2 separate regions of the Homo sapiens genome follow, and region 1 is reported to be linked to region 2. Evidence: microRNA targets listed by miRTarBase, many of them from high-throughput screens and not tested one by one. Region 2 holds a microRNA gene; the other region holds the end of a gene's coding sequence.

What was found. Region 2 holds the annotated microRNA hsa-miR-4740-5p (AGGACUGAUCCUCUCGGGCAGG, at 2,401-2,422, opposite strand). A microRNA usually pairs through its seed, bases 2 to 8, with sites in the 3' UTR of a target mRNA and lowers its output. Matches are read on the target gene's strand: a 7mer-m8 pairs with bases 2 to 8, a 7mer-A1 pairs with bases 2 to 7 and ends in A, and an 8mer does both.
Region 1: miRTarBase lists DNAAF2 as a target of hsa-miR-4740-5p. The part of its 3' UTR that is shown has no 7-base or 8-base seed match.

What each region holds. Positions count from the first base shown.
Region 1 is chr14:49,622,050-49,626,060 of GRCh38, forward strand. It overlaps DNAAF2 (dynein axonemal assembly factor 2), which reads right to left. Exons shown (of 3, transcript NM_018139.3): 3 at 3,125-3,999. The coding sequence ends at 3,493. It overlaps MGAT2 (alpha-1,6-mannosyl-glycoprotein 2-beta-N-acetylglucosaminyltransferase), which reads left to right. Exons shown (of 1, transcript NM_002408.4): 1 at 1-1,432. The coding sequence ends at 563. Among named protein-coding and RNA genes, the nearest start is that of MGAT2, 3.3 kb to the left of the region's middle.
Region 2 is chr17:81,398,353-81,402,500 of GRCh38, forward strand. MIR4740 (microRNA 4740) reads right to left here and starts at 2,426; the gene lies at 2,364-2,426. It overlaps BAHCC1 (BAH domain and coiled-coil containing 1), which reads left to right. Exons shown (of 28, transcript NM_001377448.1): 2 at 1,182-1,565. The coding sequence starts at 1,388. RefSeq lists enhancers at 3,440-3,619, 3,919-4,148.

The DNA of each region.
Region 1 (4,011 bases), not on the chromosome of region 2:
ATCACTACTTAGCCCCAGACTTTTACCATGTCTTCAAAAAGATGTGGAAACTGAAGCAGCAAGAGTGCCCTGAATGTGATGTTCTCTCCCTGGGGACCTATAGTGCCAGTCGCAGTTTCTATGGCATGGCTGACAAGGTAGATGTGAAAACTTGGAAATCCACAGAGCACAATATGGGTCTAGCCTTGACCCGGAATGCCTATCAGAAGCTGATCGAGTGCACAGACACTTTCTGTACTTATGATGATTATAACTGGGACTGGACTCTTCAATACTTGACTGTATCTTGTCTTCCAAAATTCTGGAAAGTGCTGGTTCCTCAAATTCCTAGGATCTTTCATGCTGGAGACTGTGGTATGCATCACAAGAAAACCTGTAGACCATCCACTCAGAGTGCCCAAATTGAGTCACTCTTAAATAATAACAAACAATACATGTTTCCAGAAACTCTAACTATCAGTGAAAAGTTTACTGTGGTAGCCATTTCCCCACCTAGAAAAAATGGAGGGTGGGGAGATATTAGGGACCATGAACTCTGTAAAAGTTATAGAAGACTGCAGTGAAAATCACAGTTACAAAAGCGACAGTCTTCTATTTTTGATATTTGTCCAAACAGGACATACAATTGAATAAAAGAGTTTAGGAACTGGTTTCTGCTTTAATACAAAAACAAAATCTTGTAAAAGGTGTCCAAATACATAGTAATCTTTTCCAGTTATGTCTGATTAAGATTTAAAACTGAAGGTTTCATTTTGGGAGTAGGGTTTTAAAGCTCAATCTGTTATCTGCTAAAATTGATTATTGTTGATATGAGAGAAGAGGGGAAATTTTATTTAAATTGCATTTATTAATCTTTTTATCTGAAACTTTGTACACTTTTCCACTTTCAAAACCTATTTTAAGTACAGCAAAATTTATTTAAAACTGTCATAGCAGTAAAAAGTATTACGATGAAATTGTTAGGGTATTAATGGAACAAACCCAGTTTCACTCTCTTGACACACTTATTAGGAAGGGATTGCTTCACTGGTTTAATAATTTAAAAGTTATGTTTGTTAAACACCCTGTCAGAACAGTCATTTTCAGTATTAGATTCCTGTACTATTGTGTTTTGAGTGTGTTTTGGAACCTTCATAGAACACACTTTCTTTTGGAATGTATTTGATTGATAAGAAAGTTTAAACATTGTTTTCACCTCAATGTAGAAATACAGTGGTTTTGTTTTTTTTTTTCTTTTAGTGCTGACAAAATAAAATACTCATTTTTGCATAAAAAGGTTCCTAATCCTTTTGCAGAATAAGTTTTGTTTACTCTTTATACCAAAATTCAGTGAAGGCATTCTACAAGTTTTGAGTTAGCATTACATTTTAATATTTACTATTGCTACATTGTATAATTGAGTTTGAAATAAAACCCAGCTTATGACAATGCATTCCCTGTGCAAGAAACTGTTTGGCTTTCAAATTACCCAGGCATTGAAAATGAATGATAAAAAGTTGCTGTGTAAGGGAAATACAGCCTAAATTGTTTTTGAAAGCCAGAAATGATACAAAGTTCAGTCATGCCAAAGTGAAATACTTTCTAGTGCCAGCTTTAACTTAAATCATACGTTTTAAAAGGACAGATACAGAAAATTATAGGAAACAGGCTTAAATTTTGCTCCATATTTAATGTAGACGTTTATAGAAGTTTCCCTTAATTTGTAATTGCATTCAACCGAGAATTTCTCATAAAAGACTAATTTCTGTGTAAAGATATTACGGGCTGGGTGTGGTGGCTCATGTCTGTAATCCCAGCACTCTGGGAGGTTGAGGCAGGCAGATTGCTTGAACTCAAGAGTTTGAGACCAGCCTGGGCAACATGGCGAAAACCCATCTCTACTAAAAATACAAAAAATTAGCCGGGTGTAGTGGTGCATCTGTAGTCCCAGCTACTTGAGAGGCTGAGGTGGGAGGATCCTTTGAGTCTCGAGGCAGAGGTTGCAGTGAGCCTAGAGCGTGCCACTGCACGCCAGCCTGAGCAACAGAGCAAGGCTCCATCTAAAGAAAAAAAAAAAAAGTTACTTAAACTTGTAACTATTAAATGGCAGTCTCAAAATTATTGCATCAATTTAAGATTCATAGTAGTTTAAGAGCACATATGCTTATCTAAGGTGAGGCAAATAGTTCTCTTGCTTTACGAGCTACCTTTAGACTTACCCACGGCCCAGTCTGGTGCAAGATTTTGCCTGGGGGTTATAAATAAGGGTGAATCAGGAGGCTTTGTACCTATTTCTGGTACTCTGACCTGACATCACTAGTTCAAAGAACTAAAAAATTAGGTTATTTCCAGGACTGAGCTAAGAAGGCCAGAGTGTGAAGTAGTAGCTGTTTTTGAAACAAATAGATCAGCTCCTGGCTTTGGGGTTAGTGATTAAATCAACAAATATTTCCCTTTCTGTATTTCCTTCCTTTCATTTTCTTTGGCTGCCCTAAAATTTTTTGTAAGAAAAAAACCTGTTAGGATCTTCTCTTTGCCTCACATTTTAGGTGTTATAAAGGAAATTGATTATGCAGGAGGCTGAGATGAGAGGATCACTTGAGCCTAAGAGTTTGAATCCAGTCTGGACAACATAGCAAGACCCATCTCTTAAAAAAAAAGAAAGTGATTAGGAAACACTGGCTTTTTTTTGTTTTTCTGTGTAATAATGTAATGAAGGCAATTTTCCTATCAGAGCAAATTGCCAGATTTTAAAAATTCCAGTTTTACTCTTAAATTTCTATAAAACCACAAGATGTTTTAATATTTCAATAACTTCTAAGAAATACTTCAAAATTGAATTTTGAAAATCATTACTAAATAACTAAATCTATTATATATACTTTATGTAACAAAAATATATATAGTTTGTGTGACAAAATATAGAGCTGATGAAAAGTACTACATTTTATCTGGTGAATTTGTATCGTAATTGTTTAGATTAATATTGGTTAGTAAAGTTCTTTCCCCTCTAAGCTCTATTTCAAGCTTAAATATGTCCTACTTAGTGAGACTGAGAAACAGTTTTGAAATTCTACCCCCCACACATGTACTTATAATTCCAGTTAAATGCATTCTTGAGAATTACTTTGTGTGACAAACACAATTAGTGAATATTTTTAAATTTTATTAATGACAAAGCAAAATTTAACACAGAAGTATATATACATAGGTTGTATTAAAACTAAATGTTTTAACTCTCAAATGTTTTAACTCTCAAATAGAAAACATACACATCTATTACAGGAATCACAAAACTTATCTCCATAAGGAAACTTTAAACTCCAGAGGCAAAAAAAAAAAAATTATCTCCAATTTCCCCCATGAGAATCAAAATTGCAATTTTTTAAAAAAAATTGCAAATTTTAATTTTATACTTTAATACCTTTAGTTTTAAGACAACAGTTAACAGAATCAATTTTAGATACAGGTATTTTTTAACCTTAATATTTAAAAGTCCAAAATTATATAGAATTAATCCAAATCATATAGCAAAGAATTCTGAAAACTGAATGCACAATTGGTCACATGATCTTTAATGACCTGCACACTACCATCCTGCATATTGGTTTCTTTTATGCTGTCGAATCCAGGTATATTGTGAACCGTAGTTTTGTTCAGTAATGAAGATAGGTGATCTCCATCTGTTTCTTTCTCTTCAGTTATTACTGACTCGTTTAAGTTATCTTTTTCCTCATTTGAACAAGTAGCACTTTTTTCTTTTATAAATTCAGATTGCATTTTTGACTCAGGTTGCTGAGATTTTCCAAGTATCATTTGAGAAACATCAAGAGACTCTTGTTGAAAGCATGTAACTAAACCAAAGCTATCTATTTGTAGTGCTTTAACTGCTATAGATGAATCAGAATCAGTTGTAGGGGTGTTACAATGTTCTATATATTCCTTTTCAGTTAGATGACTTTCTTCATTTACTCTTTCCTCCTTTCCTTGTAGCTGATCAGAGTTACTACATTCTTGCAACTGTGTCAAGAG
Region 2 (4,148 bases):
AGAAAATGGAGGTGAGGGTTATTTTAGGTGGCCGAGGTCCGGGCAGGGTCTGCTGGCAGAAGGTTGTGCTGGGCCGGGCCCACCTTCCCCGGCTAGAGGGCCGAGCTGGGCGCCGCAGACCCCGCGTACCCAGGCCGCCCGGTACTGCCCGGAGCGGAGACCGGCCTCTGCTCGCGGTCCCCGGCAGGCGCTGAAGGAAGAAATCCCAGGGCCGATTTGGGCCGTTGAGAGAGAGCATTCTGACTCTGAAAGCACCCCCCCCACACACACCCCCAAGCCCCCAATCCGCAGAGGAAGATCCTGGGCGAATTTGATTGGGGGGCGGGGTGATTGTTACAGCCTCAACAGGAAGCTCCCGGCTCCGGGACAGCAGGCCGGGCACTGCGGCGTGGCGGCCCAGGTGATGCCGGTGGCGGTTGCGGGCCTCCGGGGCTCTGAGGAGCCGGCCTGGGGTCCTAGCGCGATGCTGGGGACAGGAGCTGGTCCCGCTGGGGCTGGGGAGGGGGGACCACGGTGGATTCAGAAGAATGGGCCGAAAGATGCATGAGGGGGATGGGAGTGGGGAGAAAAGGAAGGTTATTAAAAAAAAAAAAAACTCTTGAGTTACAATCAATAAAATTACTCGCTTAATTAGCATGGTTATTCGGTTAAGCGGAATGCAGTAAAAGCTGGACCTCGGCATGAGGTGGGGAGAGGGGGAGAGCTAGTGTGGACCCCAGGCCTTTTCCTCCGAGACACCTTTGGGCAGCGGGGGAGGGGAGAGGGTGTGCGTGTGAGTGTGTGTGTGTGTGTGTGTGTGTGCGAGTGTGCGTGATGGCTTCGCAGATTTGGGTTTTTATCACCCAGCAGAGCCAGCAGCCTCTTCGCCGCGGCGCCCTAGCTGCAGGGACCCGCGGGGACGAGAACGGGAGGCGGCGAGCAGTGCGGCTGGGTTCCCCCGGCTGCCCCGGGCCAAGCGTGGCCGGGACGGTGCGTGCGCGCGCGGGGCCCCGGGTGCTGGGCTGCGCGCGCGTGCGGCGGGGAGACACCGAGCGCCCCGGCCCCGCCACCCGGCCTGGCCGCCGCTCGCTCGGGCCGGCGGGGGTGGGGGGTGGGGGGAGTGGGTGAGCGGGCGGGGCGGGGACCCCCGGGCGAGCCGAGCCCCCCAGTCACCCGTGTCTCCTCTGCTTTTGCCTCCACAGACCATGGACCCGCACAGCGGCCGCTGGCTCGGTGCGCGGCCGCCCGCCGAGAAGCCCAGTCCTCCCGCGTGCTGACCGGCCCCGCCGCCACCACCGCCTGTGACCCCGGACGCCGCCGCCTCTGCGCCGCCCGCGCGCCGAGCCGCCCCCGGGCCCCGGCCGCGCTGCTCCGAGGAAGCGGCGGCGGACCGGGGCCGGGGCCCGGCATGGATGGCCGCGACTTTGCGCCGCCGCCGCATCTGCTGTCGGAGCGCGGGAGCCTGGGCCACCGCAGCGCCGCTGCCGCCGCGCGTCTCGCCCCGGCTGGGCCCGCCGCGCAGCCCCCCGCACACTTCCAGCCGGGAAAGTACTTCCCGTCGCCGTTGCCCATGGCTTCGCACACAGGTCAGTGCTCGGCCGGGGCGGGCGCGGGACGGGAGCGTTCGAGAGCGGAACAGGGCGCCCACCCCTCCGCTCCCGGGAGCAGAGAAGCTTTGGTTTCATTTCCCGGCCCCGGCCGCGGTGGCTGCCTGGGCGCTGAGCGGGGCCGCGCGTCCCGCCAGCCCCCCAAGCTGCGTCGCCGCGGCTTAGAGAGGCCCTTCCCTGGCCACCCTCCCCCGGGGGTCTCGGAGGGGCAGCCCCGGAGCCGGCTGAAATTAAAGCCTTTCCGCGCCTCGCCACCCTCCCCCGCCCCCTCCTGCAGATCTAAATTCCACGGAAACCTCTTTTCTGCATTCTGCATTCACCTCCCTAAGACGTTCCGGGGCTGGGACAACGAGGCGCTTTCTGCGGAAACAAAACGGCTGTTGTGGCGGGGGGAGGGGACCAGGGTACGCCGCGGCCTCGCGGATTAGAGTGGTGTGTGCGCCGGGCGAGCGTTAATAGGGACTGCTGGTGTAAGACGAGCAAATCCTGTTTCTATATAAAGCCTTAAAGTGTCAGGGCGAGAATGGGTTTGCAGGGATGCATTTGCCTTAACGAGTGCCTCTGGTATCCCGCTAAAGCCGGACAAAGCGTGGCCAGAGTGCGGCCCAGCCTCTCAGCCTGCGGCCCGGGGAGGAGGGCAGCGCGGGCGCGGGCTGGGGGTGGCGCGGGGCGGCGCTCAGGATTTCGGTGCAGGCGAGAGTGCGGCGGATTTGCTCCAAGAGGAGAGCGAGGCGGATTTGCTCCAAGAGGAGAGCGTGGGGCGCCGTGCTGGGCCTCGCAGGGACGGATCCTCTCGGGCGGTCCCCTCTGACTCCCTGCCCGAGAGGATCAGTCCTTGGCAGAGCGGGCCCAGGCCTCCAGGGCAGCCCTCTTCCCGGTGGCTTTGATATGAGTGTCGAGGGAGGTCAGGGTAGGGGCAGCTACCACGCCTGAAGCCCTAGAGGTCACCAGGCGGCGCGGGTAGATTCGGGGGAAGCGCGCAGGGCTGCGCTAGGGACCCGCCGGGTCACCCTGGTACATGGGTGGCTTTTGTTTACAGTTTGTTCTAAACATCAGAAATGTTTGTCGCTTTTAAAAACAAAATTGGCAGTAACAGTTATTATTGGTAGCTTGATGAACTGTGAATACTAATAAAATTATATCTGCTTTAATGGGATTACAATTAGTGTGTGGATTAAAACGGATGGCAGAGACGGGGCTAGAAAGGAAAACGTCGGAAAAAGGGAGGGCACTCAAAGAAAAACGTACATTTTCTAGAAAAAAACAAACTTGAAATTGCTTAATTGCTAACGGGCTTCCAGCATTTGCAGCGCCAGGAGATTGGAATGGGGGAGCCGCCCAGTGGAGGGGTCTCCCCAGCACTTCCCGGGTTGGCCCACACCCGCTTCCCTCCCTGCCTGGGCCTTTGGCGAGGCTGCCCTTTTCTCTCTGTTGCCCTTCCTTCTTTTTCTCCCTTTCTTTTTTCTCCTCTAGATTTGTAACTGGAAAGAGAAGGAGAAAAAGCACTTGCCTGAGCGATGGGTGATTTAAAAATATCTCTTCTGCTGTCCCTGTGGTTATCAAGCTTGTCTTCCTGCCCCTGCATGGGAGCTGCTGCCCACCCGGCTCAGGTGCACGGGGCGCTGAGGCTGGGGCCGCCCTGGCAGAAGGGACAGCTCGCCAGCCTCCCCACCAGCCCCTCTTCTGGCTGAAGGCTGGTGGCCCCCACTGGGGGTAGGGGGATTGTGTGCACCCCACCTCCACTGTACCGTGCCCTCCAGCCTGGCAAGTAACAGCACGACAGAGACAGGGGCCCCTGACACTGAGGCTTGCATGTTGGTGCACAGGCAGGCTGGGGCTGTCCCCTCCGGGAGGCAAGGCCAAATTCCCCATCAGGTCAGGTCAGCACTCTCCCTGACCCCATGCCCCAGCTCACATCCTGGCCAGGTCCAGGCCAGCTGCATTCTCCCCCTTCTGCCCTTACTTCCAGGTCTAGGCAGCACCCGGGTAGGTGGGCGCCTGGTCGGGTGGCCTAGCCCTTTGTCTTGCTCATTCTAAGTTTGGCCACGTGGTTCTTGGCGTGTAGGCCCCGGAGGGCTGTGAGAAACGGCTCTGGGCTCTGGCCTGGCCTGTGTCCTCCCTGCTTCTTCTTGATCCCAGGTCCTCCCAGCCTCCCCAAGCGCAGGGTGCTCTAGAGGGCGCTGGAGGCCCCTCGGGGCTGCCTCTTTCAGGGTCTGAAGGGTCATGTGTCCCCGTCCCTGGAGGCCCCATTTCCTCCCCCCTGCGGACCGAAGAGAACGCTTGTGCTCGGAGATGTTCAACCCATTTGTGATGGGCAACTTGGTCATGCAGACATCCAGCTAGAAGCATCTGTAGCTGAAAGAAAGCCTTTTGAAATTGTTAAGAGCCAGAATATTGTATTGGTTTTTAAAATTTAGCTGCATGTATTTTTTTAAAAAAAGAATTATACCCCAGATCACTTTGCTTTGGTCTGTGTCTATATATGATCTAGTTTAGAGAGAAAAAAGCATAATTACGTTAAACAATTTTTTTGCGTCTTGTGTGCGGACTTCCACATGGCTG